3 separate regions of the Homo sapiens genome follow, and regions 1 and 2 are each reported to be linked to region 3. Evidence: microRNA targets listed by miRTarBase, many of them from high-throughput screens and not tested one by one. Region 3 holds a microRNA gene; each other region holds the end of a gene's coding sequence.

Evidence for each region. Region 3 holds the annotated microRNA hsa-miR-4724-3p (GUACCUUCUGGUUCAGCUAGU, at 3,668-3,688, opposite strand). A microRNA usually pairs through its seed, bases 2 to 8, with sites in the 3' UTR of a target mRNA and lowers its output. Matches are read on the target gene's strand: a 7mer-m8 pairs with bases 2 to 8, a 7mer-A1 pairs with bases 2 to 7 and ends in A, and an 8mer does both.
Region 1: the mRNA of COA4 is a reported target of hsa-miR-4724-3p. The part of its 3' UTR that is shown has no 7-base or 8-base seed match.
Region 2: the mRNA of XPOT is a reported target of hsa-miR-4724-3p. Seed matches in the 3' UTR shown: 7mer-A1 at 1,664-1,670.

Annotation. Positions count from the first base shown.
Region 1 is chr11:73,868,338-73,873,563 of GRCh38, forward strand. It overlaps COA4 (cytochrome c oxidase assembly factor 4 homolog), which reads right to left. Exons shown (of 2, transcript NM_016565.3): 2 at 4,330-5,057. The coding sequence starts at 5,041. The coding sequence ends at 4,778. Among named protein-coding and RNA genes, the nearest start is that of COA4, 5.9 kb to the right of the region's middle.
Region 2 is chr12:64,447,157-64,452,382 of GRCh38, forward strand. It overlaps XPOT (exportin for tRNA), which reads left to right. Exons shown (of 25, transcript NM_007235.6): 25 at 949-3,969. The coding sequence ends at 975. It overlaps TBK1 (TANK binding kinase 1), which reads left to right and starts at 4,964. Exons shown (of 21, transcript NM_013254.4): 1 at 4,964-5,031. RefSeq lists a silencer at 4,835-5,226.
Region 3 is chr17:31,533,403-31,538,628 of GRCh38, reverse strand. MIR4724 (microRNA 4724) reads right to left here and starts at 3,746; the gene lies at 3,658-3,746. RAB11FIP4 (RAB11 family interacting protein 4) reads right to left here. Exons shown (of 15, transcript NM_032932.6): 15 at 418-5,226. RefSeq lists enhancers at 170-239, 2,819-3,118.

The sequences.
Region 1 (5,226 bases), not on the chromosome of region 3:
AGTGCAATGGTGCAATCTCGGCTCACTGCAACCTCCGCCTCCCAGGTTCAATCGATTCTCCTGCCTCAGCCTCCTCAGTAGTTGGGATTACAGGCACCCGCCACCACACCCAGCTAATTTTTGTATTTTTAGTAGAGACAGGGTTTCACTATGTTGGCCAGGCTGGTAACTCCTGACCTCAGGTGATCCACCCGCCTTGGCCTCCCAAAGTGCTGGGATTACAGGCGTGAGCCACCATGCCTGGCCAGATCACTAACTTTCAAGAAGGATAGGATGCCTGGGTAAAATGGGCAGTTTTCCTAGTTGAGGCCAGCAGATTTCTCAGCTTCGTTTTCATCCCTTTCCTCTGGCTGAGGATGACTTGTTCCTCCACCATGGAATCCTGGGAATGGCCAGCTGTAGATTCTGAAAAGGTATGTTTTAGACACAGAGAAACAAATCTAGGTATTTTGGCCACTCAGATACTAGCAATGCTGAGGCCCCTGGGTCCCCTCTGTTTCTAGTGTACTTAAGGAAAGCTTTCTGAGCTTGTACTGGGTGTGCCTAGAACTAATCCTGATGGACAGACACTGGAGACAGAGGTGGCCAATGTGTCTTGTGCTTGTTTAATCTGTACTTTGATCTCTTTGTGAAATTTTTGTTTTCACGTGTCTGATCTTCTTGCAGAATCTGAAATGATTCATTTGACTATAATAATCCCCGTGGAGTAACTTTCATTCTCAGACATTTCAGCTCATTTTAGGAAATCAGCTCACCATTTAGACAGAGTGCCCAGGATCTGAAGAATGAAAACTCTTCAAAAGATAGCTGCTGACAGGGAGGAATCCCTGCTACTTCCTCTGCTTGCTTTAAGTCCTTGCTGAGCGAGGAGGGAGCCCCAGCATTTTCTACAGGAAAATTAAAGGATTCAATCTGGACTTGCTTCAGTTCTCTTTGGGTTTCTGAAGTCAGCAGCTCAAGGACTTAGTCTGGCAACTTTATGGAGAGAGGGTGGGAGGAGTATCTTCTTACTCATCTAGTAAAACACATTGCAGTGCACCTTTGTACCGAGCACAAGGCCAAGTCCCCAGCCAAGGACCTTGAAAGGAAGGGCTAAGGCTAAACCATGAGTCTGCCCTAGGCCTAGCCAAGATAGGCATCAAGCCAAGAGGTCTCTCCACTCATCCCTGGCACCAAGCCTCTAAGCAGAGGCAACCCAAAGCTGCCAGAGTTAGATCCTATAGGGACAGGTATGAAGCACCTTAAAGTTCAGCTCCTAGATTGTGGGCTGCAGAGCTGAGACTAAAGAAAAACATACCAAGCTATATCACTGTGGGCAACTTGCACTAATTAATTGCAAAAAGTTAATTTCCTTTTTGCAAAGTGCTGACAAAAGCAAAGTAATATTTACACAGTCAATGTGGTTACTCACTACTGTGTGTTAAGCACTGTACTGGGCAACAGATGCTTGTGAGAGTAGAGTAGAAAACAGCCTAGGCTTTAGAGCAAGACATACTTGGAGTCTGATCCCCAGTCTGAGCTTTATTTCCTCATCTAAAGGAGAGTGAATGCCATGTTCAGAGGATTACAAATTAGATTAGATAATGTAACTCAGGACAGTCACTAGCACACATTAATAGTGATGATGGTAATAGCTAACGTTCACTGAACACTTACTATGTGCCAGATGCTGTTCCTAAGCTAAACCAATGTTTAACTCAATCTTTCAATAATCCTATGAGGAAGGCCTATATTCGTTTTGAGGCTTGTGAAAAAGGTACTATATATGCATTTTTACACAGGTAAAAACAGATCCTGGGATGTTAAATAACTTGTCCAAAGTCACAAAGCTAGTCAGTGGCGTAACTAGGATGTGAAGGTAGCACATCATTGGGATTGAGAGCAGGCTCTGGAACCAGATTGTCTCAGTTAAATGCCCAATAAATTTTAACACTTTTTATTATTAGTTACGTATGTTTCATTCCCTCATTTATTTGGCTTATGACATATGAATTATCCCCATTTATCTGAGGGAACAGGCTTGGATGGCAAGAGTCCTCTTTGCCTGATCAAATACGTTCTGTGACCCACCCCATGCTAACTCCCTATTAGAGCCAGTGTCCTTCAAAACATGCTTGCTCCACTTAGCTGGTCTGGAAGCCATCCTTCCTGCCAAAGAGGTCTTTTATGCTTCTCTCTGCTGCTATCACCCCCTCCTCCATAGCCTACTATTCTTTCTTACACAAAATACACGCATTCCTGTTATAAAAGATTTGAATACACAGCAAATAGAGTCCTTACTGATGGAAATTGACATTGGGACCATTTGTTTACTATTATAAACAATGCTGCAATGAACCTAATAGTATGTATGTCTTATAAAAATACATTTCTGGCCAGGCACAGGGGCTCATGCCTGTAATCCCAACACCTTGAGAGGCTGAGGTGGGAGGATCACTTGAGCCCAGGAGTTTGAGACTACCCTGGGCAACATAGTGAGACCTCATCTCTACCAAAAACAAAAACAAAATTTCTCTTGATTATCCATGATATAGAGCATATTTAGTTTCCTATGTTTTGTGGTTTATTTGTTCACTATTTTTTTTTTTTTTTGAGATGGAGTCTCGCTCTGTCACCTAGGCTGGAGTGCAGTAGCAGGATCTCAGCTCACTGCAACCTTCACTGCATCCTGGGTTCAAGCAATTCTCCTGCCTCAGTCTCCCAAGTAGCTGGGATTACAGGCACACGCCTATCTAATTTTTTTGTGTTTTTAGTAGAGACGGGATTTTGCCATGTTGGCCAGGCTGGTCTCAAACTCCTCATCTCAAGTGATCCACCCAGTTCTGCCTCCCAAAGTGTTGGGATTACAGGCGTGAGCCACTGCGCCTGCCTTACTTGTTCACTTTGCTGTCAAACTATGTGCTTCTTGGTGGCTTCCAGGTACTTTTAATTCTGGATGGTAATCTTTTCTGTTATAATTTACAAATAGGTGATGTCTACTTCATCTTTATTATCTATTTATTTATTGAGACCGTCTTACTCCATCACCCAGGCTAGAATGCAATGGTGCGATCTTGGCTCACTGCCATCTCCACCTCCCAGGTTCAAGTGATTCTCCTGCCTCAGCCTCCCAAGTAGCTGGGATTACACTCAGCATGCGCCACCATGCCTGGCTAATTTTTTTGTATTTTTAGCAGAGATGGGGTTTTGCCATGTTGGCCAGCCTGGTCTTGAACTCCCGACCTCAAGTGAGCCACCATGCCTGGCCTACTTCAGCTTTAAAAGTTCAACTCAACTAATCTCTTCTCTTCTTTGAGATTCTTGCTGAAAACTCCAGTGCACACTGCTTGTTTCCTTTGATGAATCAGCACTGAGCACACACACATAGCGATTTGTCTTTATAATTTGCTGGTTATCCCCTTCAGCCAGAAATAGGATTGTTCTTTAAACTCCTACCTTCTCCCCTTTTCTCTTTACTTCTTCCCCAAATACTGGCATGAAGGTTCAAAGTAAATTTTAAGGCCTACTATACCTCAGATTTGGGCTTCTAATAGATCCTGAAGAAATATTTGTTATTGTCTGGGTGTGGTGGCTCACGCCTTTAATCCCAGCACTTTGGGAGGCTGAGGAGGGTGGATCACTTGAGGTCAGGAGTTTGAGACCAGCCTGGCCAACATGGTGAAACCCCATTCTCTACTAAAAATACAAAAATTAGCCGGGTGTGGTGGTGCTTGCCTGTAGTCCCAGCTACTTGGGAGGCTGAGGCAGGGGGATCACTTGAATTTGGGAGGCAGAGGTTGCAGTGAGCCGAGACTGCGCTACTGCACGCCAGCCTGGGCAACAGAGCAAGACTCCATTTCAAAAAAAAAAAAAAGAATAGAATGGAAGAGTCGTTTTGTTGAAGAAAAATGAGAAATGATATGCAACTGTTTTGAATGGGAAAACACAACCTACTTAAAGGGGGAGTTATTATTCAGCTCCAGCAAATTGTTAAGAGGGAATAAAAATCAATGTTGACATCTTCTCCCCTTTTCAAAAGCTGAAAATCTGTATTTTAGTGTTAAATATACTCTAAAAATGTTAGCCCAACTTTGTGTTTGTTGGGTTGGGAGCAAGTTAAAGCCAGACTTGGTATCTGTTAATTCAACAGAATCTGGCATTTAATAGGTACTCAATGTTTGAATAATTAGCTGGGTGTGGTGATGCACACACCTGTGGTTCCAGCTACTTGAGAGGCTGAGGTGGGAGGATGGCCTGAGCCCACTGAGGATGCAGTGAGCCCTGACTCCACCACCACACTCCAGCCTGGGCAACAGAGACCCTGTCTCAAAAAAACAAAAGAAAAACATATTTGAATAAAAAGTTTCCCCATTTATTTTTCCTTCCACTAAACTGATTGAAACATCCAGAACAAGTGATGAAAGAGAAAGGCACTAATTAGGTAATCAATTTACCATTAGATTGTAAATTTAATTTAAAATAAAATGTCCCTAAAATCATCTCAGTACTTGGCACACTGACTTAAGATGTGGGGTGGGGGAGCATCCCTTAACACATTCTTTGTTTTCCTGGTAAATACTGGTGGAACAAGACAGCTGAGAATGTATGACATCTGACCATGAACATATGACAGCTGTTTGTGCCAGTCATGTCCAAACCCATGGCTCTCAACTCCAGATCCAAAAACTCTCCCCATGTTTTAGACCTCCCACACCAGCATTTAGGATTTCTTCCTCTATAATCTTGCTGGGTGCTGGTCTTGGCAGGGCCATCTACTGGGGATAGGTGGTTTGGGGTCTCAGTGGTGGGCACCGGCTTGTTCTTGCCTCCTCTGCAGCTCCTCTTGCCGCCTCGCCTGCTGTTCACTCATGCAATCCTTGAACGCCTGCACCTGTGGCTGGCATTGCCGCCAGTCCTGGTGCTGGGCCATGCACTCCTGCACTGCAAAGTGGGAGGCAGCACAGCCAGAGCGGGAGATCAGCTGGTCCAGCGGGTCCTCCTCCTCATCGTCTTTCTTCACCCGTTGGGTCCAGGTATGGCCTTGAGGGACTGAGGTTGACATCCTGGGGATGGGGAGTCTATAGAACATTAACAGGTTAGAGTAGGGATATAATATGTAAGGTTCCTAAATTATAAATAGCACTGACCAGACTGCACCATTTAGCCTGTTTAATGTGTCTGTCTCCCGTGGGAGACTCTAAGCTTGAAGACAGATGCTTGTTTTTTTTTTTTTTTTTTTGAGGGTGT
Region 2 (5,226 bases), not on the chromosome of region 3:
CCCCATGATTCAATCATCTCCCACCCGGTCCTTCCCACAACACATAGGAATTATGGGAGCTACAAGATGAGATCTGCGTGGGGACACAGGGTCAAACCATATCATTGTCCTTACTGAGAACACTGAATTATGTCTGGTGCTCACCTGACCTGCCATGGATGGCAGCATGTAGTACTAGGCCATGCCTAGCACAGCCTCTAGCCAACTCCTTTGTAGTCTCAAATTTTGACTTGGAAGTACTTTTGAATCATCAAATAAATAGTAAATTCCTTACAGAGTTAGAACTGCTATGTTTAGCTTTGACTTGTTTCCTCCTCAATATTTAATTTTTTTTTTTTTGAGACGGAGTTTCACTGTTGTTGCCCAGGCTGGAGTGCAGTGGCACGATCTCGGCTCACCACAACCTCTGCCTCCCAGGTTCAAGTGATTCTCCTGCCTCAGCCTCCCGAATAGCTGGGATTACAGGCATGCACCACCACACCCGGCTAATTTTTTCTATTTTGAGTAAAGACTGGGTTTCTCCATGTTGGTCAGGCTGATCTCAAACTCCTGGCTTCAGGCCTCGGCCTCCCAAAGTGCTGGGATTACAGGCGCCGTGCCCGTCCTCAATATTTAATTTACCAGTGTTAATTTGGAAATAGTACCAATCAGTAAAAAGGTGTCAAGAGCTTGTTTTCTTCTGACCACTTGATTTCTATAGCATAGAGATAACACCATATTTTCACTACTTCCCCAGTTGGGTGATGTCAGCATAAGTTATATCTACACTTACCAAACTCTCCAGAACAGAAAGTTCTTAGCTTGGATTACATACGGATATATAAGGCATGCGAAATGTTCTAATGTTACAGAAGAACATTGCTAGCACTCAGATACTTGGAGCCATTCTTCAGGTGAAAGTGATATCTTCTGACATTAGTATTGATTGCATTAATACTTTATTTACAGGTGTTCTTCCAGAGAGCAAAGCCCTGAGGACTGGATTTCCCTGTGCCTACTTCATGATCATGAATTCCAGTTAATTTATAAAGAGGCGATTTTTGTGTGCCATTCACACTGGTCTTTTTCACATTGTTTTGAGCTTATTGCAGTATATGTTTTGGGATTTTTCTGTAAAATGGGTGTAATTTTCCTAATACAGGTATGTAACAACAAAAGAAGTTGCCTGCATGCCGGTCCAAATTGTTCTGTATAAAGATGCTCTTAAAAGACACAAGAGTTATCCTAGAACCTTAATTCTTTTTTATTTGAAATTTTAAGTCAAGTCCTTTATAAAGACCATAGCAGTGGAAAACAGTGTACTTTTTAAAAAATTGCTGAATATAAAATCTTTGAAAATTTTCTTTATGTGTGAAGACACAAAGTATGGGGGAAGACAGCAATCAAAACTAACTTTTTGTAGATAGCCATTTCATTTCTTTAAACTGTTTCAACGCCAATATGTATTCTACAAAAGAGAATGGTTTTAGGCTCCAGTGTTATACTTTTTTTTATATATATATATAAAAATAAACTTTACGTAGTGAAATCTTCCAAGTCTTTTCTGGAATTATTATAAATACTTTAGTTTTATTTTCTCATCTTAATCTCTCCATAATTTCCCATTTAAAGGTTTACAAATATGAGTGTGTGGATGCTTTAATTCATTTAACCTCACTCCTCAAAGGTAACATGCAACTTAGTTCTGTTATATGAGAGTCTTTTTCTTTAATGTACTGGAAAAAGCCTATGTGAATCTGTTGATAGAATTTAAAATTCCAGGCCGGGCGTGGTGGCTCACGACTGTAATCCCAGAACTTTGGGAGGCCAAGGCAGGTGGATCACTTGAGGTCAGGAGTTCGAGACTAGCCTGGCCAACATGGTGAAACCCCATCTCTACTAAAAATACAACAGCCAGGTGTGATGGTGCACGCTCGTAATCCCGGCTACTCAGGAGGCTGAGGCAGGAGAATCGCTTGAACCCGGAAGGCAGAGGTTGCAGTGAGCTGAGATTGTGCCACTGCACGCCAGCCTGGGCAAGAGAGTAAGACTCTCTCTCAAAAAAAAAAAAAAAGAATTTAAAATCCCAATTTATTTTCTAACTCTTTTATTGGATGTATTTAGAACACAGTATACCTATAGTATACCTATGTGTTTATTATGTTTGTAAATGGTAACTGACATTTAATTATTAGAAGTACTTACCCCTGCCTTCCTCCATTTTTATTCATGGCTACTTGAGAAAGCAAAAGGAAAAAATAATAGTTATCAGTAGTGTCACTGGAAAGAAGAGAGGAGGGACAAAACTGAGCAGCAGAATTCGTATAGACATTTACGTTTAAATTCTAAAAGCCCAATTGAGATGTTCAGGGAGGGTTTGTTTTGCCCTTTGGCCTCATGAATGGGTTTCATGAATGGGCTTCAGTGGCTTATAAACTCTGTAAAATTCTATTCTAAATTTTGTACATTTATTTTGTTCCGGTTAATTCCAGAAGACATTTCAAACATTTTTCTTACACCATATAATAAAAATACTTAACTAAATTGACAGTTATAAAAATAAATCAGTGAAATGTACCTTATACTTTAATAAAAAATGTTTTCAGAAATAGATAAGTGAAAGCTGAGTGTTTCTTTGATAGGTTCCCCTGTACTATAGGAGTGATAATTGCAGCTATTGCAATAGTAGTAATTGTTAAATGGATACTAATGAATAGCATAGCATAGTGGGTAAGAGTTTATATAGCACAGGCTCTAGAATCAGATTAAGTAGGTTCAAATACCAGTTCTGCCAGTAACTGGTTTTAGAACCTTGGGCAAGTTAAAGAATGTCTCCCAGCCTCAGTTTCCCTATTTGTAAAATGGAAATAATGGTAGCTACCTCAAACCTCATTACGAATTCAATGAGTTAAACTTGAAAAGACTTATTACAGTAGCTGGCACATAAAGACTTGATAGTAGTTTATATGGATGCTATCTCATATTAGCATATATGGAATTAATAGTGTATCACTATACTTTTTTTTTCTTTTTTTTTTTTGAATAGAGATCAGTCTATCACCCAGGCTGGAGTGCAGTGGTGACATCATAGCTCACTGTAACTTCTCCCATACTCTACCAATCCTCCTGCCTCAGCATCCAGACTAGCTGTGATTACAGGTGTGCACCACCACACCCAGCTACATTTTTTTTTGGTAGAGACAGGGTCTCACTATGTTACCCAGTCTGGTCTCAAACTCCCGGCCTCAAGCAATCCTCCCACTGGCCTCACAATGTTGGGATTACAGGTATAAGCCACTGCACACGGCCTTACTATGCTATCAATTCCATATATGGAAAGGTGTTTTCCCTTTCAGAGCTCTTTAAAGCTCTGCAGAAGATTTACATGTGTTTATAGAGCTAAGAGAAATCAGGGCATGGAAATTGAGTGTGTAATAAAAATTAAACTCTTCATGTTATATAATCATGCATAACTTCTATCTTCATTCTCTGAAGTTGCCTAGAGCACCATCACAGCTAGGAAGCTTCCATCATGAATTACCTTATTTCCAAAAGCAAGTACTCAAATAATTGTCTCAAGAGAGGAAGGACAAAACTGTTACAAGCTGAAATATTTGGGGATTTGTTTGACTTGACTAGGGAACCACAAGTTTTCATATAATGCCTGATTTAGCCCTGTGCCTAACAGTTTAAATCTTAATGCTAATGTTAATTGCTTCCCAGTTGGTTGACCTTATAAGAAAACACTGTGTGGTATTTTAATGTGGTAAACATGTGAATGAAGGCCTGTGGCTCAGTTAATCACTCCCACAACTTTGAGCTGTGAGTTTTACTGGTGGAAGGAACTTTAACAGGTCTTCGCTCTTGTCATTAGATATCAAAGAACTGAAATTAGTTGGAATTGTAAGCAGTGAATAGATGTGTTGTTAGAATGATTCCATCACTTATACATTGTTTAAAATGCTAATAAAGTAACTTGCTTTGTAAGAATTCATTAGAGTGGACTTTTGTTATCTCCATTGTGCATTTGATAAAACTGAGGCTTAGAGAGGTAAGAGATTAGCTTTTAAGTCAGTAATTGGCAGCCGAGACAGCAACCCTAGGTCTGTTACATTCAAAAGCCTCTGAGCCACTCCGCATGACTTCCCATTCATTCGTGTTTGCTGCTGCTACTCTGGGAAACACCATCTTCCTCTTCCCCTCCACTCAGAAATTTAGCCCTAGATTAGCAGCGGTCTCTGCTCCCTCATGTTGAGAAAGGCCTGTTGTGCTGTCCGTGGGCAGAAGGGACCCCTTCAGAAAGCTATTCCTTATTGGGAATAGCGGCTTGAGATTTTGACTGCACGAATATTGCAGGACCTAATTTTAGTATTTAAGTTTTAGTTCTTAAATTCTTAAGTTTAGAGTTAGATACTCCAATACGGCCGTTTTCCAAAATACCGAGAGGGAATTAAATGAACATTTTTACATTAAGAATTTAATGTATTTCTGGGTGATGGGAAAATGAAAAAAACAATGTAAAGTCTGAATTACTGCGAGACGATAATCTGGCTCCACTGCAGCCAAAGTGGGCCCTTAAAACATAGAATCCATCCCTCCCAGCTCTGCCGGCCGTCTGTGCCTGCCCCCCACGTGTCCCACGTTCTGCACACCTGTAAATCTTGGGATGTAATCCCTTGCTCAGCGTCGGTCCGCCCTACTGTCGGCCAGCGCTCGGGGAAGGGGCGGGATTTGCAGTTGCGGGAATCCCAATTACTGTGTTCGCTGCTCAGGGCTCCTCATTCCCCTTTAGAGTAAAGGGCGAGGGCAACAGTGGACGGGGTGTCTCCAGACATCCCCCTCATTACCGTGGCCGCGGAAGCCGACTCGGCAGTTGCCGCCGCGGCTGTGGTGACTACCAGACGGGCCATAGGCGTGCGCACGCGCACCCGCACCGGCGCGCCGGCCGTCGGTCACGTGGCCTCCGGCCAGGGCTTGCGAAGCCGGAAGTGTCCTGAGTCTCGAGGAGGCCGCGGGAGCCCGCCGGCGGTGGCGCGGCGGAGACCCGGCTGGGTAAGTGAGACGGCCGCGGGCTGAGGGGCCAAGGCGGCGCGGGGCGCGGTCGGTCAGGCCTGCGCCGCCCGGCGGGGAGCGCTCCCGCCCCCTGTGGGAGGCTGGGATGCTGAGTCAGAGCGGGGGCGGGGGCGGGCGCACCGAGAAGCCCCGGACGACCCGAGGCCAAGCCATCCAGGACCCCGGCTGCGTGGA
Region 3 (5,226 bases):
GCAGGTCTGAAGCCAGTCCTGAATGGAGGCATTGGGCCGTCACCCTGGGGAGCCACAGCGGCGGACATGGAGGGAGCATGGCACTGGGACCCCACTGGACCCCTAGGAAGACCTCAGTGGGAAAGAACATAGCCACACAAAGGACAAAGTTTCCAAACATCATAGCCCTGTGGCTGGAATGGTGGCATTAAAGAGGCTTCTGGGATCCACGTCTTCTCCCCTAGGGACTGAAGAGTGACACCGCCCCACTCCACCCTGCCCCTGGGGGACAGCACCAGCCACCCTGGGAACCACAAACTTGGTGGGGGGCAGGGGGGTTGCTCTTTTTAAGGGAGACCATCTGTCCCTGTGAGCCCTGGAACCAGGCCTCTTCTGCCCACCCTCCCCCAACCACAGAAACTCATGGTTCAGTCAGGCGAGAAGAGCAAACTGTTTATTTACACCTTGGTCTGTACAGTACAGCTCCCCGGGAGGAGCCTGCCACCAACAGCCTGTTCCTTTTGGGGCAGAAGCAGGTTGGAGGCAAAGAGCTCAGACCCTGGACAGCCTCAGGGCCTCACCCCCACTGTCCCCTCCCTGGGGCCCACAGGGCAGGTCCCACCCCAGCACTAAAGCTAAGCCTGTTTCCAGACAGAGCCTCCTGGGGCAAAAAAGTCAAGTTGAATCCCACAGAGTCAGAGGCCATCTAACAAACCCTTGGGCATGAGGCCACATGTGTAGTTCATTCCACGTAGGCCTCAGAAGACCCAGCCAAGAAAGTGGGAGGAGCTGGAAGGGAGCCCACAGCTGTGAGTCCTTGGCAATGCACCGTCCGCTCCGTGACATCAGTTGGTATTTAATGGCACTCTGGTCTGAGCACCTCAGCAGACAAGGAAGGGCTGGGCAGGTGTTCACAGCAGGCAGGGGCAGCAGCTAGCACCTCTTCCTTCTGCCCAAGTGGGGCCCGCAGCTGTTCTAGACACCAGATGTGGTGGCCTCAAGGCAGGCCTGTGGCCGTGCACCAGGAACCATGGACAGGGCTTCCTCTGGGGGCAGAGACAGTGCACGGAGCGGCTGCGGTCCCATGATATCCCTGCTGGGGCCAATGCCCCAGGTTAAAGAGTGATGCTTTGCCCGACATCACTAACAATGCAGGGAAAGCTCTGTGGGAGAAGCTGCTTTACACAAAGTTGCCCTTTTCTGGAATGCAAGGCTCCTAAATTAGCTGCAGGCTGGAGGAGGGACTAAGTGGGTCCTAGCCCCCCATGCTTAAGACAATAATGAAAGATTCTGTACAAAGTTACCAAGTCTACAGGCTGAGCGAGCCAAGGGTAAGTGGGGCCTGATCCTTGTGGACGAATGTGCCCGGGAGAGCTGGCCTCACCTGGGGGAGGCACGTTGAAAAAGTACACATTTACAGGGCTCGGGAAAGGCCAGGGAGATGAGACGATGTAGAAAAGGAGGCAGTGGGCAATGTGGAAAATCCTGTACAGTGGCGATGGGGAAGAAAAGGCACAAGGACAAAGACCCCAAACCATGCAGATGAAAACAGCCTGTGCAGCACAGCAAAGCGGATGGGCCCCAGCAGGAGGCAGGGTCACCCTGGGGACAACAGCACTTGGATCCTGCAGGAGACATGGCCTGGATGCCATCCCCAGCTGGTAGCTCCGGGGCAGACATCTCTACCTTACAGATGGGGAAAGGAGCAACCTACGAGGTCGGGGCAGGGAGGTCATATGGGAAACCTCGCCTGGTGAGCATGGTGACATTATACTTCCCCAGGGTCTACGCTTTTAGAAACAAATCTTTCTAGAAGGCAGCCTATTTTCTCTGGTGGGTAGCAGAGAATATGGCAGAAGGGCCTCAGAGTTGTCCTGCCATGCAGGTAGGGCAGGCTCCTGGTTCCAGCCTCTCCCGCTTCCTGCTGGCTGCCCCATTCATGTGTGCACCCAGGGCAGGAAGTGAGGACCTGGCAGGTCCCTAGGATCAGCGCTCAAAGTCATCCACTGACGGCATGGCCCTTCTAACTTGAGGCCCCTTGGCGCAGCAGACCTCAGTCTTCCTAGCCAGCAGCGTCACCCTAGAGGGGATTTCCTGGGTCCCAAAGGGAGGGCCAGAGTCTGGGAGAAAGGACTGTGGAGGATACCAGCACTGAGTCCTAAGTGGCCCCTTTCCTCAATCTAGAATCCACAGTAGCCCTTGAGAAAGAGTCGCTGTGGATCTGCTGGGCAACCAAAGTCATTTTCTTGGCATGGTGACCACGCAAAACTTTCCTGGTATGATCACATCGAAAGTTACTTTTTGTTTTTTTAAAAAAATAAAGACAAGAGTTTCACCATGTTGTCCAGGCTGGTCTCGAACTCCTGAGCTCAGGCAATCCACCTGCCTTGGCCTCCCAAAGTGCTGGGATTACAGGTGTGAGCCACCGTGCCCGGCCTAGAGTTAGTTTTTAAGTTTAAATTTGCTAATGCATTAAACCCCACCACACACACAGGACACAGAGGGCTTCATTTCTCCCAGTTTCACCTGGCCCTGCTGGCCCCTGGAGGCTTCTGCTAAGTCCCTCATTGGAACCAAGAACCCGCGCTTCTGTCCCCGCGCCCCCCCCCCCCAACTCCCCTGAACACCAGCACCAGTGGACTAGCACCTGGAGTGTCCGGTGTGTGAGTAGGATGCTGGTTTGGCTAACAGGGAACGAGCTGGGACTCCCTTTATCAACCCAGTCAGGAAACAGACCAGAAGCAAAACCCACAAAGACAGTATGTCCTCCTGCTCAGCTATGCAAATAGGTGGCAGCTGTTTCTGCGGCTGCTTTCAGGGGGACAGCCCCACCTGTCAGTTCCCTGCTGACTCTGTTCTACCTGCTCTTTGAGATGAGCCTGTAGCCAGTATATCCCAACACATGCCACCCACTGATTCCAGGGGCACCAGGCCAAGGTCCTGCCCACCCACTCTGGTCTGCTAACCTCCAGGCTGGTGAGAACAGCTGGATCCACCAGCTCCTGAAGGCATCTGGCCTCCCATCCTGCAGGCCAGGACCATTCAACAACAGGAAAAGGAACCCTCCCAGCAAGAGAGCTCACTGTCATTCAGCCACGGGCTTGACAAGCCCAACAGCCACTTTGACCAGTTTCCTCTACCTCTGGCCAACGACCTTGCAGGACAGGGCAGTCTCAACCTCGGACTGCATATCATCACCTGGGGAGGTCTTTACACATCTCGATGCCTGGACCACACCCCACACCAATTCAATCCGAACCTCTGGGGGTTCAGCCCAGACAGCAGAAGCTTACAAATCTCCCCAGGTGATTCCAATGCACAGCCAAAGCTGAGCCCACTGTTTTAGGCCCTCGTGCAGGTTCTTGAGCTTTTTTTTTTTTTTTTTTAACTTTTGGTAGAGACAAGGTATCACTATGTTGCCCAGGCTGGTTTAGGACTCCTGAGCTCAAGTGATCCGCCTGCCACTGCCTCCCAAGTGCTAGGATTACAGGCGTGAGCCACCATGCCTGGCCTGTTCATGTTTTAATAGGTCAGAAATAAAGTCATGAAAAGGAATTTCTCTGTGACAGTTCGCAAAGAATTCTACCAATTTAAAATAAAATAATCTAGGATAAACTCTGGCCAATTCAAAGCTAAAAGAAAAAAACATTTTTACTAGAAGTTTCTTAAAGCCTCTCAACGCACAGGGACTAGCTGAACCAGAAGGTACTTCATTTTCTAATAGATAATGTACACGAAGCTCACTCCTGGTTCAGTTCATTTTGCGTGGCTTCCAACTGAACGCAAGGGCAGCTCAGGGCCATGTAAAATCTGAGTCTACTACAGAAACCCTCGCCCCACCCCCAAAACACCTCTAAATTTCAGATAAGTTACTGCTAATCCCTACTCGGTAGGGTTGCCAGGTTTAGCAAAAACAATAAAAACAAACAAAAAACCCAAGTAGGACACGCAATTAAATTGGAATTACCTGAGCAGCTCTTTAAAAAATCCCATGCCTGGGCTACACCCACAACAATCAAACCAGAACGTCTGAGGATTCAGTCTAATCATCAGAATTTTTAAAATCTCCCCATTTCAAATATGTCCTGGCCAGGCATGGTGGCTCATGCCTGTAATCCCAGTGCTTTGGCAGGCTGAGGTGGGAGGATCACTTGAGGTCAGCAGCTCGAGTGAGGCAACACAGTGAGACCCTGTCTCTACAAAAAATAAGAAAAATTAGCTGGGCGTGGTGGTGCATGCCTGTAGTCCCAGCTACTCAGGCAGTTAAGGCGGGAGGATCGCTTGAGCCTGGGAGTTCAAGGTTGTGGTGAGCTATGATCATACCACTACACTCCAGCCTGGGCAACAGAGCAAGATCCTATCTCTAAAAATAACATCTGTCCCATGTATTAGATAGAACATATTTATTCTAAAATTATTTTCTATCTGAAATTCAAACTTAACTGGGCATCCTGTCTACTACCTCGCAGCCCCACTACTGAGGGGTAAGGGCAGAAACAAAGATCAAGCTCCTACCACCTAGGCTCTGGGACCTGCCACCAAGGGGTCTGGGATCTGCCAGGGGCTGTGGAGCTGGGACACCTGGGGCATCTGCCCCCTCAAGCTAGCTTTTGAGCCCAGAAGAATATTTTTACAAACATACACCATCTTTAAAAGCCAAGCAACAAGCCAGGTTTTACAAGAAATGTATTCTGGCTGAAGAAAGTAAGGTTGGACTTGAGGTGTGTGTGAGCTGGAATTCAGCCCCCCATTTAAAAGCCAGGCCTGCTCCAGAGGCCCCTCTGGCACTGCAGCAGGTCCCGGGGGCCTTTCAGACGCCGGCTCCCTCCGGAGCCTGTTCCCATGGCGCCCCTTAGAGGGAGGAGCCTGAAGCACGCCCCAGGCTGCCAGCTGCTTCCGCCCACCTTTCCCGTGGCAGAGATTCCTTCCCACGTTGTGACTCAGGCTGTGTAACCCAGGCCTCTGCAGCCTTCTCTGAAATTCCAATGCAGCCAAAGGGCAGATAACATTTTACAGATAAAATACTCAACCCTGGGGTAAGGCCCCCACGCACCAGTACTCCTTCTGACCTAACACCCAGGCCAAAGCTATGTCAGGATCTGTCTTGTTCCTTTCAGCCGTGGCCACTCCTTCCTATTGGCAAATTCTCAAGAGACCCTCTCCTCATGCCTTCTTCCACTGCCTCTTCGCAGAACCCTTGGGGGAGCCCAAGGAGACCCGCGTCCTAAGGGGCTGAGAAACTCCTAG